Linked DNA regions of Homo sapiens: region 2 is linked to region 1. The links come from fine-mapping of genetic effects on gene expression. A gene starts in region 1. The other region holds a variant in brackets. All regions are shown on one strand. Distances are from middle to middle. Region 1 holds the start of FOXC1 (forkhead box C1). Region 2 overlaps GMDS (GDP-mannose 4,6-dehydratase).

Region 1 (9,495 bases):
GGGTTCCCGAGGCGCGGGACCTGCCGGGGTGAGGTGCCCCCAGCCTGAGAGCCCCAGCCTGGGTCGGCCAAGGGGCCTCCGGGCTTCCACATCGTCCCTTTTTCTGCTGACGCTCGCGGGGAAGCGGCGGGAAGCCTGTGAGGGGCGGCCTGGGAGCAGACGGACCACCAGGTCACCGGCGCGCGCTGCCAGGCGCCGACCCACTCGCGAGGACCAGCGGTTCCCGGAGGCGTCGGCCCTCAGGTCCTCGGGGGAGGCCGGCTGCACCGAGCCGGGTGTCGGCCTTGTCCCTGTCCTGAGAGGTGCAAACACCGGCCCCGGCCCAGGCCCCCGGGGCTCCTGCCCAGAAGGCTCAGAGCTGGGGGCCGACCGCGCCTTACCCGCAGGAGGCCCGGCGGTGCGTCCGCGTTGGTGCCACTCCCCGGCCGGGGTGAGGGACGTCGGAAGGAAGGTCCCAGGGCGCAGGGTTCCGCGAAGGGAGCACTCGGAAGGAAGGCTGGCTGCGGCCCCGGCGCCTGGGTCCGCTGCGGCGCCGGGCCGGAGACCTGGGAACAGCCAGCCACCTGCAAGGTTGCAGCCCACCTCACCCCGCCGGCGGCTCCGGGGCTGTCTGTGGGTCTGTCTCACGGGGCAAAGCCTTTCTTCCCACACCCACAGCCAAGGCGCGTCCGTGCAGGGGCACACGCCTTCTGCTCCAGCCCCAGGAAGGCGCTTTCGCCCTGCAGTCCTCCGACGGCCGGCTCCCGCCGCACCGCGCACCCTGGCTCCGGCAGACTCTGGGGCCTGGGGACTCGCCCACCCTGCGCGGCGCGCCCCCCACATGAGCCGAGGTTGGGAGGCTGCGGGGCCTCTGTCCTCCCAGGCCGTGGAGTGCGGCGGCCGCTCTGAGTCCGCTGGGGACCTGGATGGAGAGAAACTGGGGCTCGTTCGCGCACACATGCACCATTTGTTCTTTCCGATCATCTATCCCTTTACGAATTTTATTTTTATTCCGGATTGTTAATGCAAGACGACAGTTTGAATCTCCATTTACCTCTGCCTGAACACAAGAAGCCCTGAGTCTTTTGAAGCCGGGCACCAAAGTTAAAGATTCACTTCCCGCATTCCCCATGGCCCCCTCTTGCAGCTTAGCTCGGCTCTGAGCCCCCGAAACGCCCTTCGAGGCGGGGGCTTTCCTGCCAAGGGGCGATAGGTGGGCCATCCCGAGGCGGGAACGATCAGGTAGGTGTTGGCTGGCTTTCTCCTGGGTGAGTAGTTAGGGGAACCGCCCCTCCAGGGGACTTAGATGACATTAAATTATCCCATCACACAAACTTCCCGTGGAGGTCTGCCCCCAGGAGGGCAACTATCGGATTAATCCAACCATGTAGACAGGCAATATGGATCACTTTGTCTTTAAAACAATCGAAAACCAAACGCTCTTTTCGTTTATTGTAGAAATTTTTCTACTAAGGACGGGGCTGAATTGGAGGGACTGTGCTGACAAATCCTCTACTTGAAAATCCCCCAGCTAAGGAGTATCTGCCCAAGGTCGCGGCCACCCAGATGTTCGGTCCCCACTCCTTCCTCCGCTGAAAAGTCGCACCGATGACTAACGTTGCCTGCCGGCCTGGTGGTTTGAAAACGAATGCCGGGCATTGATGCAAGGATATCCTCCCCTACCCCTGGGATTCTGGTCTAAGCAAAGGAGGCCGAATGGAGAACTAAGACAATTATCTAAGTAATCTAAAAAGCTCAAAGACATCCCCAAGCGGACCTTGCTCCAGTGGTCTGTGATGGCAGCCTAGTGGACAGTTTTCTAGTGGCCCTCTGGGGTTAATTGCCTTAATCTTCCACTCTGTCTGCCCCAGCAAAGGGAAAGATGCTAAAGCAGCTGTGGACTTGCAGCCTCCCTCCTGTGTGTGCAGAGCCCCCAGGAATCACTGCCCCAGTGCAGCAGGAGAAGCGCCTTCCCTCATGCCCTAAGCCTGCCTTTTCTGTTGTCCCCCAGCTCCTGGGCCAGGTGGAGCCCCCCCTGAAGCTGGTTTCTACCTGCCCTCGCCTCCCCACTGCAGCCCACAGTTCGGCTTTCAGGGCTGAACCCAGAGCCCAGAGGATGGAGAAGCCAGAAAGCGGGGAGGTAAGGGAGAGGGCGTCTAGGCACACCACAGAGGTGATTGGGCTGTGACGGGGACAATCCGCACAACACGAGCTAAGCTCACACCCCTAGGGAGTGATTTTTCCGGACTGCCCCCATCCCAATCTCCACCTCCTCTGCTTTACTTGAAAAAGAAAAAGAAAAAAGAGAGCTCCTTCTGGCTCCTGGTGACCCATATTTAGGACACCATCCCATCCCCCAGCACACACATTCCTACAGTGTCACCTGGTCCCCAATCCGAGCATTTCCTGGAGTGCTCGCCACATTCCCCTTCCTGGTGCTTTTCTATGGTGGGGCCAGGGGAGGCCTTGTTTTGAACATCGCTGTGACGTCACTCCCCCTCCTCCGAGCTAAGCACCCCTCGGTGGGCCCTGGGAATTGTTGCCCGGCCTGCTGGGGAGGGGCGGAGTGTGGGCCCAGGGAGGGTTCCACCAAACATCCATTACCGCTGTCGCCTGCGGGGCCTTCAGGCTGCAAGTACGTGAGGTGTCAGAAAAGAAGCCGAAGGGTTCCCGTGGGGGCTCTTCTGCCAAATGAGTCAAGAGATGTGCGGAAGCGGATGATTGAAGTACCCCGTGGAGTAGCAGAAAGGGGCATCAAAAACTGTAACCTGAAAATAAAAGCTTTAACCTGTTCCCCAAAAGACTTCATGCCTGCGTCTTAATGTTCAAATAACACCACTAACAACAAAAATGAAATAAGAAAAGTGCTTGAAATACAATCAAGCCGCTTACTGGAGGCTTGCTTCCGAGTAAGTTTATAAAACACAAATGCAAATATCTTTTCCTGGCGAATATCCAGAGCTAAACCAGTGGAAAGTTGATCTTGATAAAACTACGTCCCTCCATTTTTTCTCGCACGCCAGACACTAATTTCACAACGGCGACTTTTATACCCAAAACGGAGAGCTGAGAACACCGCTGCAGGTCGATTTGCAATTTACATAACAAGCTGTTTACACTTCACTGGGCCGATGGAGGGAGGAGGCAGGGAAGAGCAGGAGGCGACAGGCTGGTGGGGGAGGGGGCAGCGGGGCACCATTGCCTGTTGCAAAACTCGGGGCCGAAGGCGTTTCCCGCATTCGGAAAACAAAGCATCCGTAATCGCTGCGTTCATCTCCGCGCACCGCTAGCAGTGTAAAAGGCAGCTTCAAGACCGAACTCACCACTTGCTGAGGTGTTCAGGGAGACCACTTAAATCTCCTCCAGGCTGAAGCCACAGCACTCCTTAAAGCCTCGACCAGGCGGGCTGATAAGACCTTCAGGGTGCCGGGCTGGGGGCTGAACAGGAATTAAGTGTTCAGGTCCTGGGGCTTCACCACCACCCTCGCCCCTGTCTAGTGTCCTTGGCAACCAGCAAGTGCTGAGCCTCCTGTTGGTGCTTCTCCAACCCACCAGTGACTTGGCCCGCAAACCACCTGGAAAAGGAGTCTCCAGAGACCCCGGCGCACAGCAGGCCAGGAGGCAGCTGCCCCGGGATTCAGAGCAACCTCGGGGCAACCCTCCCTCCTCCAAAGGCTAATTCTAGAAGAGGCAGGTCCTCTTTCCTTCGATGTCAATGTCCATTATGAAACAGTAATTTTTAAATATTCAGGTGACACGGAGATGCGCCTGCTACACGTCAGCGTCCTTCACATGTAACAGCCGAAGCTGCAATTTGAATTTTCCTGCCAACGTGAGGAAGCCGGGATTCGAACCGGGGAGACAAAAGGGGTCCCGAACATGTCCTTGGATTTAATAGATGGTCGGAAATCAGGGGCAGCGGAGCTGTTAAATGCGTCACGCACGCTTCTTCGCAGTCTCCTGAGCTCGCCACTTCCCCCAGCTTCTAGTGAACGACTTGGGATTCAGCCTCCGGGAGGGTCTCTCCTCAAGTCGCTAAAATGCAGAATCGCCGTGCCGGGGGAGGGAGGCCTGGCTCTTTCCCGCTCCTTCGTTTCTTTCCCTCATTTCTCTTCTTCCTGTCCCATTCCAACCACCCAGCGACGGCGAATCTCAGGCGTGTGCACAACGAGCGGGGGCCCTTCCGTGCGTGTCCCCCCAGAATCCTTGAACCGCCCTCTAGGTGCGACCCTGGACGTTCCCCCAGACACACCCGTTGTCTCTGCGAGCCGGCAGCCCCGCGCATGTGGAGATGGAGACTGGCCTGGGGAAGCGTTAAGCTCTTAGACATATTTATTTGCTTCTTGTCATCACACCTGCTAATGTCACCGAGCCCGCAGCCTGACCCCTCATCTGAGCCGAAACGGGCCTGACGGGATCAGAGGGGGCGGCGGCGCGGCGAGCCGGTGGGACCCTCGCGGGCGGGCAGGGGAGCGCGGGGCAGCAGCCGGGCTCCGGCAGCCCTCGCCGCCCGCACCCTCAGGCCGCCAAGGGCCGGCCCCCCGGGGAGGGGGGCGAGAAGCAGGGCGGCCCGCAGCGGGGCGGGCTCATCCTTCGCGGGTGAACGGCCGTCGGAAACTCCCAGCAGGGCCCCGCACCCCTTGCCTTCATTTCGGCTGGGGAGGGGTCATGGAGGGGGGCCAGATGGGCGACGAACCTTCTTCCCCACCGCGAGCAGGGCCTGGCTGTGACCGAGCCCTCAAAATCATGTCCTTTGTAGCCGAGTTCAGGACAGGAGAACCTCCAAGTGGAGAAAAGCCGGAGACGTCAGTGACCCGAGTGAGACTGGCGTTGGAGAAGGGAGGGAAGGGGCTGCGGGAGGGGAGAGGCGGCGGGGAGGAGAGGCTGGGGCAACCCCAGCGCTGGCGTCGGCGGGGCTGGCGAAGGAATGAGAGCGAGCCAGCACGAGGCGGGGCGGAGACGCCAGGGCCACTCGGGAGCCGTGGGCGAAGGAAGGGTCTGCACGGGGTCCCGGGAGGACCCAGGAAGTCTGCGCGAACGGCGGGCGTGGGTCCGGAGGGCCCGGGGTGGGAGGTCTGCCGGGCGCCGGCGGCAGGCAGGTGGACTGCGGGGGGCGAACCGACGGCGGGCCGGGCGCCGGCGCGGGCGCAGGGCCGGGGCCCGGGCCAGGGCGGCCGGCGCGCGTGTGGTCAGCCCCGCGGTCCTCCGGCCTCCGGGAGCGGGCCGGCAGGGCTCGGCCTCCGGCTCATTCGGAGGCGGTTCTCACCTCCCATTGGCTGCCGCCGCTGGCGGGGCGGGGCTCCGCTGCCCGGAAAAAAGTGTAACTGCGTAAAAAAGTCCTCGCCTGGGTGACGGATGCTCAAAAGTTCAGAAGTTTTCCCAATGCTTCCTTAAGCGGCTGGCGCGCGAGAGACCGAGAAAAGGTGACGCGGGGCCCGGGCAGGCGGCCGGCGCGCGGCCCCCCCCCCCCCCGCCCTGGTTATTTGGCCGCCTTCGCCGGCAGCTCAGGGCAGAGTCTCCTGGAAGGCGCAGGCAGTGTGGCGAGAAGGGCGCCTGCTTGTTCTTTCTTTTTGTCTGCTTTCCCCCGTTTGCGCCTGGAAGCTGCGCCGCGAGTTCCTGCAAGGCGGTCTGCCGCGGCCGGGCCCGGCCTTCTCCCCTCGCAGCGACCCCGCCTCGCGGCCGCGCGGGCCCCGAGGTAGCCCGAGGCGCCGGAGGAGCCAGCCCCAGCGAGCGCCGGGAGAGGCGGCAGCGCAGCCGGACGCACAGCGCAGCGGGCCGGCACCAGCTCGGCCGGGCCCGGACTCGGACTCGGCGGCCGGCGCGGCGCGGCCCGGCCCGAGCGAGGGTGGGGGGCGGCGGGCGGCGCGGGGCGGCGGCGAGCGGGGGCCATGCAGGCGCGCTACTCCGTGTCCAGCCCCAACTCCCTGGGAGTGGTGCCCTACCTCGGCGGCGAGCAGAGCTACTACCGCGCGGCGGCCGCGGCGGCCGGGGGCGGCTACACCGCCATGCCGGCCCCCATGAGCGTGTACTCGCACCCTGCGCACGCCGAGCAGTACCCGGGCGGCATGGCCCGCGCCTACGGGCCCTACACGCCGCAGCCGCAGCCCAAGGACATGGTGAAGCCGCCCTATAGCTACATCGCGCTCATCACCATGGCCATCCAGAACGCCCCGGACAAGAAGATCACCCTGAACGGCATCTACCAGTTCATCATGGACCGCTTCCCCTTCTACCGGGACAACAAGCAGGGCTGGCAGAACAGCATCCGCCACAACCTCTCGCTCAACGAGTGCTTCGTCAAGGTGCCGCGCGACGACAAGAAGCCGGGCAAGGGCAGCTACTGGACGCTGGACCCGGACTCCTACAACATGTTCGAGAACGGCAGCTTCCTGCGGCGGCGGCGGCGCTTCAAGAAGAAGGACGCGGTGAAGGACAAGGAGGAGAAGGACAGGCTGCACCTCAAGGAGCCGCCCCCGCCCGGCCGCCAGCCCCCGCCCGCGCCGCCGGAGCAGGCCGACGGCAACGCGCCCGGTCCGCAGCCGCCGCCCGTGCGCATCCAGGACATCAAGACCGAGAACGGTACGTGCCCCTCGCCGCCCCAGCCCCTGTCCCCGGCCGCCGCCCTGGGCAGCGGCAGCGCCGCCGCGGTGCCCAAGATCGAGAGCCCCGACAGCAGCAGCAGCAGCCTGTCCAGCGGGAGCAGCCCCCCGGGCAGCCTGCCGTCGGCGCGGCCGCTCAGCCTGGACGGTGCGGATTCCGCGCCGCCGCCGCCCGCGCCCTCCGCCCCGCCGCCGCACCATAGCCAGGGCTTCAGCGTGGACAACATCATGACGTCGCTGCGGGGGTCGCCGCAGAGCGCGGCCGCGGAGCTCAGCTCCGGCCTTCTGGCCTCGGCGGCCGCGTCCTCGCGCGCGGGGATCGCACCCCCGCTGGCGCTCGGCGCCTACTCGCCCGGCCAGAGCTCCCTCTACAGCTCCCCCTGCAGCCAGACCTCCAGCGCGGGCAGCTCGGGCGGCGGCGGCGGCGGCGCGGGGGCCGCGGGGGGCGCGGGCGGCGCCGGGACCTACCACTGCAACCTGCAAGCCATGAGCCTGTACGCGGCCGGCGAGCGCGGGGGCCACTTGCAGGGCGCGCCCGGGGGCGCGGGCGGCTCGGCCGTGGACGACCCCCTGCCCGACTACTCTCTGCCTCCGGTCACCAGCAGCAGCTCGTCGTCCCTGAGTCACGGCGGCGGCGGCGGCGGCGGCGGGGGAGGCCAGGAGGCCGGCCACCACCCTGCGGCCCACCAAGGCCGCCTCACCTCGTGGTACCTGAACCAGGCGGGCGGAGACCTGGGCCACTTGGCGAGCGCGGCGGCGGCGGCGGCGGCCGCAGGCTACCCGGGCCAGCAGCAGAACTTCCACTCGGTGCGGGAGATGTTCGAGTCACAGAGGATCGGCTTGAACAACTCTCCAGTGAACGGGAATAGTAGCTGTCAAATGGCCTTCCCTTCCAGCCAGTCTCTGTACCGCACGTCCGGAGCTTTCGTCTACGACTGTAGCAAGTTTTGACACACCCTCAAAGCCGAACTAAATCGAACCCCAAAGCAGGAAAAGCTAAAGGAACCCATCAAGGCAAAATCGAAACTAAAAAAAAAAAATCCAATTAAAAAAAACCCCTGAGAATATTCACCACACCAGCGAACAGAATATCCCTCCAAAAATTCAGCTCACCAGCACCAGCACGAAGAAAACTCTATTTTCTTAACCGATTAATTCAGAGCCACCTCCACTTTGCCTTGTCTAAATAAACAAACCCGTAAACTGTTTTATACAGAGACAGCAAAATCTTGGTTTATTAAAGGACAGTGTTACTCCAGATAACACGTAAGTTTCTTCTTGCTTTTCAGAGACCTGCTTTCCCCTCCTCCCGTCTCCCCTCTCTTGCCTTCTTCCTTGCCTCTCACCTGTAAGATATTATTTTATCCTATGTTGAAGGGAGGGGGAAAGTCCCCGTTTATGAAAGTCGCTTTCTTTTTATTCATGGACTTGTTTTAAAATGTAAATTGCAACATAGTAATTTATTTTTAATTTGTAGTTGGATGTCGTGGACCAAACGCCAGAAAGTGTTCCCAAAACCTGACGTTAAATTGCCTGAAACTTTAAATTGTGCTTTTTTTCTCATTATAAAAAGGGAAACTGTATTAATCTTATTCTATCCTCTTTTCTTTCTTTTTGTTGAACATATTCATTGTTTGTTTATTAATAAATTACCATTCAGTTTGAATGAGACCTATATGTCTGGATACTTTAATAGAGCTTTAATTATTACGAAAAAAGATTTCAGAGATAAAACACTAGAAGTTACCTATTCTCCACCTAAATCTCTGAAAAATGGAGAAACCCTCTGACTAGTCCATGTCAAATTTTACTAAAAGTCTTTTTGTTTAGATTTATTTTCCTGCAGCATCTTCTGCAAAATGTACTATATAGTCAGCTTGCTTTGAGGCTAGTAAAAAGATATTTTTCTAAACAGATTGGAGTTGGCATATAAACAAATACGTTTTCTCACTAATGACAGTCCATGATTCGGAAATTTTAAGCCCATGAATCAGCCGCGGTCTTACCACGGTGATGCCTGTGTGCCGAGAGATGGGACTGTGCGGCCAGATATGCACAGATAAATATTTGGCTTGTGTATTCCATATAAAATTGCAGTGCATATTATACATCCCTGTGAGCCAGATGCTGAATAGATATTTTCCTATTATTTCAGTCCTTTATAAAAGGAAAAATAAACCAGTTTTTAAATGTATGTATATAATTCTCCCCCATTTACAATCCTTCATGTATTACATAGAAGGATTGCTTTTTTAAAAATATACTGCGGGTTGGAAAGGGATATTTAATCTTTGAGAAACTATTTTAGAAAATATGTTTGTAGAACAATTATTTTTGAAAAAGATTTAAAGCAATAACAAGAAGGAAGGCGAGAGGAGCAGAACATTTTGGTCTAGGGTGGTTTCTTTTTAAACCATTTTTTCTTGTTAATTTACAGTTAAACCTAGGGGACAATCCGGATTGGCCCTCCCCCTTTTGTAAATAACCCAGGAAATGTAATAAATTCATTATCTTAGGGTGATCTGCCCTGCCAATCAGACTTTGGGGAGATGGCGATTTGATTACAGACGTTCGGGGGGGTGGGGGGCTTGCAGTTTGTTTTGGAGATAATACAGTTTCCTGCTATCTGCCGCTCCTATCTAGAGGCAACACTTAAGCAGTAATTGCTGTTGCTTGTTGTCAAAATTTGATCATTGTTAAAGGATTGCTGCAAATAAATACACTTTAATTTCAGTCAAAAACTGCTCTACGTGGCCTGTGATTCGCTCGGTCCCCTCCCCCAGGGTCGTAACCTAATCGCCGGGAAGATCGCAGCGGCGCTGGCGCGGGTGTCTCCTCGGGGCAGGCGGGCTGGGGGTGGCCTCACGGCCCCGTTTAAATCTCGCTGGGCTGTCGCGGCGCTAGGTCCCGGGGCTGC
Region 2 (9,495 bases), 100 kb after region 1:
CGGAGAGCTTGGAGTTGAGATGTTTTGGCTCGTAGAGACACAAGGTGATGGGCACAAAACACACAGGTGGACATTTGCCCTGTGCTGCCAGGACAGGCTGAGTTAGGCTTGTCCTGGTGCTGCCTCTGTCCCCTGCCCCTTGTACTCTCGATAGGCAGGTGGTAAGTTTGTAGTTACCCTAATCCCATCTTTCTGAGCAGCCCCAGCACCATCTGGCCAGCACACCATAATCAAACGTGAATATTCCTTCAGCAAAATGTATGAACAGTTACAGTAAGTGATAAGAAGACAGACTACATAATTAGTCTTGTGTCAGGTTGGGCCAGATTTTGTAGGAGAATGGGTTTTAAGGGAAGTTTTGATTTTCCCTGAGCTCTTTGGATTTTGGAATCACGGATAATGGACTGCGCATGGTGTGGGGCTGTAAGTGTGGGTGTCCATGGCAACAGAAGAGAGAACGTCTAGCTCACTCCTGGGAAGCTGGAGGACTTTCCAGAGGAAGTTCCAGTAAACCTGAGACCTGAGGGAGGAGGAGAGGTAGCTTCAGGAGAGTTTGGGAACTGGGGAGGGCAGGAATGACCATCAAGTTGCAGTCCTGGCAGGCGGCTGGGCACCCAGCAATCTGGGGCTAGACCCACACAGCAATGAGAAGGGTGGCGGCGCAGCAGGAAGGCCCTTGCAAGAACAGGTGCATCTGGGGGGCATTAAGCCCTGAAGAAGTTTTAGGGTGAGTTGAATTCGTCATTGTGGAATAGCAATTAACCGGTTGTTGATAAGGTGCCTGGAAGTTGGAACTAATATGGGAGGAAATAGAATGATTGGTACTATAGCGGGCAGGCCTCAAATTGTTGGGGCAATGAATGAAGTGAACAGATTTTCATTCATTTCGATTCTCAAGGGTTGTTATGGTTTTGTATATTAATCAGATGTATATATTGTGTATGATCAGATGTGTGCGGTGTGCTGGCACCATCGCGGCACAGCTGATGATTCTGAGGGGAGGTGGTGGGCAGGTGCTGAGGCAGGAATACAAGAAGTAAGCCACAAAGGCAGGCACTCCAGAGGCAGCAGCACAGGCTTAGTGACTGATCAGAGGTGGGGGCAGCAAGGCAAACAGGGGAGTCAAGGGAAGTGTCCATGCTGTTCTGCCCATGTGTTCTAACCTGAGGCCTGTGAAAAATACTTGTCTCTTTCCTCATGCGTTTCTTTATTCTAACTGATGAGAACGATGCTGAAGTCTGACTAACATACTTCACCACTGTTTTCTTTTTGTTGTAAAGTCACACATGTTCGCTAATGAACATTTGGAAAACACAAACCAGCGGAGGAGAACCCCTCGCAGGCCCATCATGAACACAACACTGCTGTTAACAGTTTTGCTGGAACGAGGCTGGGAGCACGAGGCGTCCGCAGCACGTGGCTGATTCCCAGCGTTTGCTCACCTGTGTGTAGGTTTCCTTATATGGTTGTGATCATACTGTTTGCGCATTTTTATGCTTCTTTTTTCACCCATCATTTTATCCCAGACACTTCCCTGAGCTACTACTCCATAGTCTGAATGGACACGGACTTTAATGGATTTGCTGCATGGTGGCATTTGGAAGGACTGTGCTCAGTTATCCCCTATGGTTGGACACTATGCTGTCGAACAGATCTCTAAACCTGAAGGAAATTGCTTTAAAGGCCTACTCTCATGGCAGTATTTTCGGGAAGGCAAGGAAGCATTTGGCATCTCATACTGGTTCCTAACTTATAGCCTTCCGAAGTCTCTTGCTGTCAACTGAATCAGGCACGGAAACATTTATAACTGGTAGTTTGTGGATAACAGAGTAGTATTTTAGCAGTTAAGTGAATCTCAAGTTTCAGTGCCTCTCAAATGTTGCTTACCCAAAATTTCAATATTAGTGTTGGTTGTGAATAGAAGGAATTAAAATTACATCTCCATTGTGCTCACCAGAACCACGTCTCTGCTAACCATACTTTTTAATGTGACTTTAAGGAAGCAAAACCAAGTCATAAGGTTTTGAGGTCAAAATGTGAGCTGAAAATATTCTGATTTTTAAAAATATCTATCTGTTGATCCATCTATCTATGTATTGCTCAGAAATACTTCTTGGTCTCACAGAAGAGGGGAGGAAAGGCTTCAGTGACAGACTGAACAGCCACACAGTTGAGAGAAGTAATCATAGGACACTCTCTCAAAGGCCCTGCTCCAGAGCCCTCTCCTCCATGGCGTTGTCCAGGGTGAGCAACCAGATGGAGGTGGGCTCCCCACCTTCCTCCTCCCAGGCAGCCTGGCATGGCCCACCACACACAGGCCTGGGAGGAGCTCCCCACCTTCCTCCTCCCAGGCAGCCTGGCATGGCCCACCACACACAGGCCTGGGAGGAGCTCCCCACCTTCCTCCTCCCAGGCAGCCTGGCATGGCCCACCACACACAGGCCTGGGAGGAGCTCTGCCACTCACCCACTCTTCTGAAAGACACATGTGAGTAGCACCCAGATTTGGACGTTGGAAAGTGCGCTTGCACTGAAAGCAATTTTACATATGGTAACTAGACGCAGTTAAAATATTTTCATTAGTATTTCAGGCATGTTATTGGGAAAATAGGCTTGTGTTGGCAGGGCTGGGGCCCTCGTATCATTTAAAACACGCTTTCTGGGAGAAAAAGGTTTTCAAGTACCAAATCTGTTGTTGCACCAAAGACTTCACAAACTAGGCTACATCCTTACTATTCACATGCGTTATTAAACATTTTCTGGAGTAAGGTAAGGTATAAATAAATGAAATACAAATAAACAAAAAACAAATACAGCACTCATCCGATTTTAATGGCATAGAAAGGAAATATCCAGAAGTATCAAGTGGGAAAGGTGCTTGTCCACACCCTCCTGGGGCTCTGAGGGCCATAAAGAATCAGCCATTTGCTCACCATCCACAGAAAAGCGTGAAACAAAATGCGGCATCTGGGTATATCTCAAAGGTAGGGAAGGAAACAACTCGAAGGCTGTAACTTTCCCGACACTTGAGACGTCACTCCTTTGCAAGGCAGCATTCCCAGCAGGCAGCGAAGCGTGTTTGGAGAAGCTGGAGGGCAGATGAGGAGTGGAGGGAAGGCGGGTAGGGGGCTTGCACTCGAAACCACCTCTGAAGGCGTTGTCAATACAGCAACAGCAACGAGGACAAACATGCCACACGGTGGGTCCAAGTCTGAACTGCCCGGGGCTAAGTCAGTCACCGCACAATCGAGTATGGTGTAGCTCCAAAGAATGGATCGGGCGAGAGCCCCACTGCATCAGATAACTGGTGCATCAAATGGTTTAGATCTTGGGAAAAGCAGGTTTGGGTTTTCCTCAAACCATGCCTATTATAAACTGCTGGTAGAATATTCCTTTTGAATTAAAATCTCATAGTCTATTCTAAGAACTCCAAGGGCACATGAAAGAAAGGCCAGTGAGCGCCGGGGGCCTCTGGGCCTGGCTGGCGTTCCTCTGAGTACTGCCATCTGAAACAGCAAAAGGCCAACCGGGGTCACGTCTCTGTACGCTGCATCTCACAGCTTTGGGTTTTAAATGTAAAAAAGAAGCACCTTTACATGGTAAGTAAGTGTGTCCAGTCATACACTAAAAGGACAAAAAGCCATTGTCAGGTGCTGTGGTGACATGTTCAGTTGGGCCCTGACCCTTCCTACTTCCAGAAAATCCCTCAAAGCCTTCATACCTGGTGCCTGTGTCACTGGAAAAGAGGGTGCAGCTGTCTGATGTCCCCTGATTGCCGAGAACCGTGTACACTGACTCAGCTCCACAGGTAGGCATGACAGGTTATGTCCCCTGAATGCACAGCAGGTGTCTGACTGCTGGTTTATAGATTCAGACCATTAAGTAGGTGCAGATACACCCACTGCAGCACTGAGAAAAGGCAGGAGACAGTGTCTACAGAACCAGAGTGCCAGCCACCCTTGTAGTGCTGCTGCTGAGGGGCCTGGCTAGAAAGTGCTTAGAGCAGCTGTCCTTAGAGGCTAATGTGCAGAAGGGCAAAGTTTTTGGGTGACCCAGTGCACGTGATCTGGGAGGAAAGTTGCAGAGGCTTCGTGGGGGAGCACGGCCTGGAAACTGGCTGTGCCACTAGCACACAGCGTGACCTTGGGCAAGTCACTCGGCTTCCTGGTGGCCCAATTTCCTCATCTGACATGACAACAGTGAAGATCATG[T/C]TCCCTGAGCAGCTGGAGGAAGTGACAATGAGGCTCTGTGCTGGAGAAGCCACGGTGGCAAAGGCCAACATCTCAGAGGTGACGTGTTGCCTGGCCCCCAGGACCAGGAGAAGCCCTTAATGCTTGGAGCTGATTGTCACAGATGGAAGGAGAAGTGGACAAGTAACGTGGGTGGGCCTTGGCTCCTCTGTTCCCCAAGGCACAAACCCACTCCTCTGGCTGCCCTTACATGGCTATTTAGACTGCTGCTTACATGAGAGTACGTGCAAAAAGAAGAACTTATTGAGAATTAATGCTGTAACTAGGATTTAGAGATGGGACTGAGAGTTATGTTTCAAAACCAGAGCTTGAAGTTTGGGGAGAAAACAAATGTCTCTTCTCTCAACAAATACAGTCCTTTGGTTGGGCTAAACCTGCCTAACTCGACTGAGGCAGGGTATCTATGGAGGAAGAGTTTTTGCTTCATGCAGCAGCTTTTGGCTTAACTGCAGAATTATTTCTGGAAATAGTTAATAAAAATCACACATATATATAAACCGATAACATAAAACCCCAAACCATACAAGTACACTTAAAATAAATGACTTTGGGTATTTAAAAATTGTTTTTATACTGCTGAAGTCCCTGAAGTCAGAGCCCGTGCTACAGCTGTACGCTTCCCAAGAATCACTGCTTGTCAACACTGCTCCTGCAGAGGAAGACTGTTTACCTCCACTCTGCCTGTCAAGTTGACTTTGTCTCTAAATGCTCTGCTTTTTATTACTACCCTCCACCAGACCGGGGAAAACATTTGTGTATGTGTATATTCCTGAGAAGCTTAACCACATTACTGCTGAGAACACAGCAGATCTACTCATCAACTTGGTAAAGAAACCAATCACACTGATTGATCAGATGCCTAAAACAGCTAGTTGATTTTCTTTTCCACGTCTGCGGCATTCATTCAGTCCCTAAACCCTGAGCAGCCACCTGCTCTGGACCTGCCGTGGTATAACCAGGCTGTGGTCAGACCTGATGGAGCTTCCGCCTATCAGAGAACTGTGTAGGGACAATGCCCTCTGGGGCTTCACCAAAAACAACCAAAACACACGTCTGCCCTGACATGGCAGATACACTTTTGAGGTTCCCCTTGGGAATGGTCCCCCTAGACCTGGAGCTCTCCGAGGATGGGGTCAGGGAAGCTGAGACTACCTAGGCACAAAAATCTTGACGTCTACATTTCTATCATCAATTTAACTTCAATCGGTAAATGATCTGGTGATACTGCCAAGCTCAATGTCCAGGTCCTAAGCACACCCTCCCTTGCAGGGCGGGGGTGTGAATGGCTCTTATGTTCCATTGGGGAGGGCGGATGTCAAGCTCTTCCAAAGCACCCCTGTGAGTTTGTGGAGGGCTTAACGACAGACTTGTGAAGGGGTTGACTACATATCGTCAGAAATTATACCAATGACAGTTTTAATCACTGGACATGAACATTTACAAAATACGTACACCTATGAAAGGATGTGCCAAGCCAAGCAAAAACTTGGGGCTGGAGAAGAAAGGAGCCGGACCTGGCAGTTCAGCTTTGTTTTCTCCGCATGGACAGCTGGACAGGCACAATTCCCTACAACTACATACATGATGTATTCTGAGCATTTTCCCCTGGGGGGAATCAGCTTTTATCTAATTCTTCAAGAGGTGAATGAAACCAACAAGGTTAGGGACAACCCAACTGTGTGCATCATTCCCTGACTGCAGCCCAGGGCACAGCTGCCCCCACTTACCGAGGCTTGGCCAGCCTCAGAGCCGGCTGCCTCAGGATCCCTGCAGAGTCCTACGTTTCCAGGGTCCACCGCTCAAGTGGTTTGAGGATGAATCCTGGAAGACTGTATTTTCAACAGCTTTCTGGATGAGTCTGACGTACTAGGCTTAAGAACCATGGACTAGGGTAGCCACCCTTGACAAAGGATGCCTGCGGTTTTGCTTAAAGTAGTAGTATTGCCTGAGAAGAAATGGGTTGCCTCTTTAAGAACACTTGGGTAACCCACCCATCCACAACAGCTCTGATGATTACAGGCAAAATGAAACACATGGGTGGGAAATAAATGTACAAACTCATTTTGCCAGTTTGCACCAAATCTGTGTATTTGTGGCCTGTGATTTTGGAGATACTACTCTGCAATTTTTGCACACGTTATGTCTAGGTATGGTTTTCCATCCACCTTGCTTATCTCTGTGCTATCAGCCTGTCTTTGCCTCTGACACCCCGGCTGCCTGCATACCCCTTCCGTGCCCCTTAAGTGACTTGGGAAACTTGTGGAAAGCCATCTTTTCCGTCCGATTTTGTGCAGCATGGATGAAAGTCCCTGTTGATTCTAAGGAATGAGCTGGGTGGAGGGACAGTTTTTCTGGCATAGTGAAGGCCCCACCCGAGCACCAGCCAAACGGTGGCTGCTGAGAGCAGCACTGCACAGTCACCAGCCGAACATGCCCCCCAAAGCCCCATCCGGCCCCTCGCCTGAGCCTTCATTAACACCCAACACTTCTCCTCTGTTTACAAGTTTATGACTGCAGCCTACTCTCTAACCCTCTTCAATGCTTAGAAACGGACTCTAAGATCACGAGAAAACTGCAAGAGATTGGAGGTTTGGGGCTTCAGATATAGAAGGTATAGAAGATGCTGGAAAATTCAGTCAGATACAGAAGATGCTGGAAAATTAAGTCAGATTAATCCAGACTCTTGGTTTGAGGAATTCTTTTCTTTGATAGTAATCACACTATTCTGCAATACTCCGGTATCTTTGATCATAAGATCTCAACATGCTTCACAAACACTAATTTAACCTCCCACTACTTTTGTGAAGTTTATCATAATCATCCTTCACTTAGGAGATAGGGAAGCTGAGATGACGTGTAAAGTAGAAGATGTAAGTAGCTAAATGAACTTTGAAGTGCTGTGTTCTTATCTTAGCTCCTAATTATTTTGACTGAAGTGTTTTTTCTTATTTCCTTCAGATGAATAAACTGATATCGATGGTTTACATAAACAACAGAAACTGCAAAACACACATTCCTAACTTGCTCCCTATAACTAAGCCTGGGGTGCAAAATGTCACTCACATGGAGAGAAGACGCAGCAGACATAATGGCTTATCATCAACTCAGGGTTTGAAACAAATACCCACTTTACTTTGATGTCTCTGATGCTGACCACAAAGTATGAGGGTATCGGAAAGCTCAGAAGTTCAGACAGAAGTTCAATTGTCTGAAAAAGTTATAAAGATGGAGAAAGGGAAAAAGCAAAAGGGTTGAATTCTTTAAAAAAAAAACCAAGATCATGAAACAGGCAGAAAGGAAGAGGAGAATATTTCTAGCAAGCAATAGGTTATTAAGTTTGGATTTCAATAGAGGTTGTTAGCAGAACAATATAAATATTACTTAGTTGGAGGGCTGAGGAGAAAGTGGTGTGAATCAGAAAGCCTGACCAATGTCCGTGGATGACCAGGGACACGGGGCAGACACAAGGCCGTTTCTGCTGCAGATAGTGAGAAGGCCATGCCATCATATCTGCGTTTCTCCCAAAGCAACAAATCCATCAACACAAGACTATGTAGAATCCAGCCACGGATGTCAGACTGACAAGTCAGAAATGTGGTAGATCCATAGTGGCCACTCTCAAGGACAAGCAACTGACTCTGTTTTATGTTTTGCCAAATAAACCCACAGGCCAGCGGGTGGGCGCTAGCCTTTTCATAAGTATGCCAAGTCAAACCACCATTAAAACCATTCCCTTGGCCACTGCGGTCCCTGTGGGATGAAGTGTCCTCGCCTCCACTGGACTCCAGTGTGTGTTATCTTTTCACCTCCTTCCTGGGAAGAGTTGGTGGTTGCTCAGCACCACATGTGACGACTAGGCACAGGCCCTGGCTGCTCCTGGCACCCACCACCGGCCCACGCCGGGATCCAGTGCTGGCACTGTTTGCTCTGCGTCTCCGCCCCGTGGCTCCCTCCCACTGCCCACCCCCGCCAGCTGAAAGAAGAGACAATGTATTGGCACTGACGGCCATCCCCATCCTACCTTTAGGAGGAGGTGGTGATGCATGAAGATAATATTTCGTCTTGCCAATAGACAAACAGGCTTTTTGGATCAATGGGACACACACACACACACACATACACGTACGTGTGTTTGTGCTGCATTTTACAGTTGTGCCAAACTGCATGAAATTGGCTTTTCTCTCATCTCAATTTGGCGGCATGAAGCACAAACATCTCAAAGGAAAATCAGCAACTGTTTTTATCCATAGTCTCTTCTCTTTTTCTTATTCATCTGATCCACGGGCCTATCTGAGTTCTTATTTTTTCACATCCTCACTGTAAGTTAACAGTTTTGGTAAGACAGGCATACTCAATCAGGCCATTTCTCTTCATGTGGGAATTAGATACTTGTTTTAGAAAACATATCCAAAGACTATTCTAGTGCATTTGACTGAATTTTCCACCAAAATGGATGTGCAAAGAAGAAGACACTGTACACCTTATTAGGAAAATCTCTATAAGCCCAACACTTTTTCAGACTTTTTTTGAGAGGGAGTCTCACTCTGTCGCCCAGGCTGGAGTGCAGTGGCATGATCTTGGCTCACTGCAAGCTCCGCCTCCTGGATTCACGCCATTCTCCCGCCTCAGCCTCCCAAGTAGCTGGGACTACAGGCGCCCACCACCACGCCCAGCTAATTTTTTTGTATTTTTAGTACAGACGGGATTTCACTTTGTTAGTCAGGATGGTCTCGATCTCCTGACCTCGTGATCCACCTGCCTTGGCCTCCTAAAGTGCTGGGATTACAGGCGTGAGCCACTGTGCCCGGCCTCACTTTTTCAGAAATTTAAAAAATGTTGTTCTAAATGACTATCATCTTACACAATCATATATTTAAGTTCTTTGCACTTACATTAAAAAAAAAAAAGAAAAACATTGAAGATTCTAGGTGAAGAGAAAAAGGAATATCATGCCACCAGGTTTCCGGAAGACCTTGGTTCCACGATACCAATACCAGCCATGATGGCCATTCACTGAGTAGAACTTATTTCTCACTTTGTAATTCAGAAAGTTTCAGAGTAGCAGAGAAACGCGTGTCATGGGGAAAGCCAGAGAACTGAGTGTCTTTTATGCTAGGTGACACTTTGTTCCACAAATATAGCCTCAGAGTGGGTAAAGGAAAGATGGTGGCTGACAATGGGGCATTTCTTATGGAGGCTCAGAGCCGGCAATGCCTCCAGTTGGCAGTCGTACTCTCTTCAGACAG

Evidence for each region.
Region 2: its variant is fine-mapped to the expression of FOXC1 in whole blood (GTEx, PIP above 0.99).

What each region holds. Positions count from the first base shown.
Region 1 is chr6:1,604,579-1,614,073 of GRCh38, forward strand. It overlaps FOXC1 (forkhead box C1), which reads left to right and starts at 5,337. Exons shown (of 1, transcript NM_001453.3): 1 at 5,337-9,319. The coding sequence starts at 5,868. The coding sequence ends at 7,529. FOXCUT (FOXC1 upstream transcript) reads left to right here and starts at 953. Exons shown (of 2, transcript NR_125804.1): 1 at 953-1,221; 2 at 1,438-2,780. RefSeq lists silencers at 1-91, 142-211, 5,145-5,764 and enhancers at 1,513-2,013, 2,014-2,514, 2,872-3,381, 6,095-6,194, 9,049-9,495.
Region 2 is chr6:1,705,259-1,714,753 of GRCh38, forward strand. All of the region lies in intron 9 of GMDS (GDP-mannose 4,6-dehydratase), which reads right to left. Among named protein-coding and RNA genes, the nearest start is that of FOXC1, 100 kb to the left of the region's middle. The variant T/C (reference allele first, on the strand shown) is at 4,211.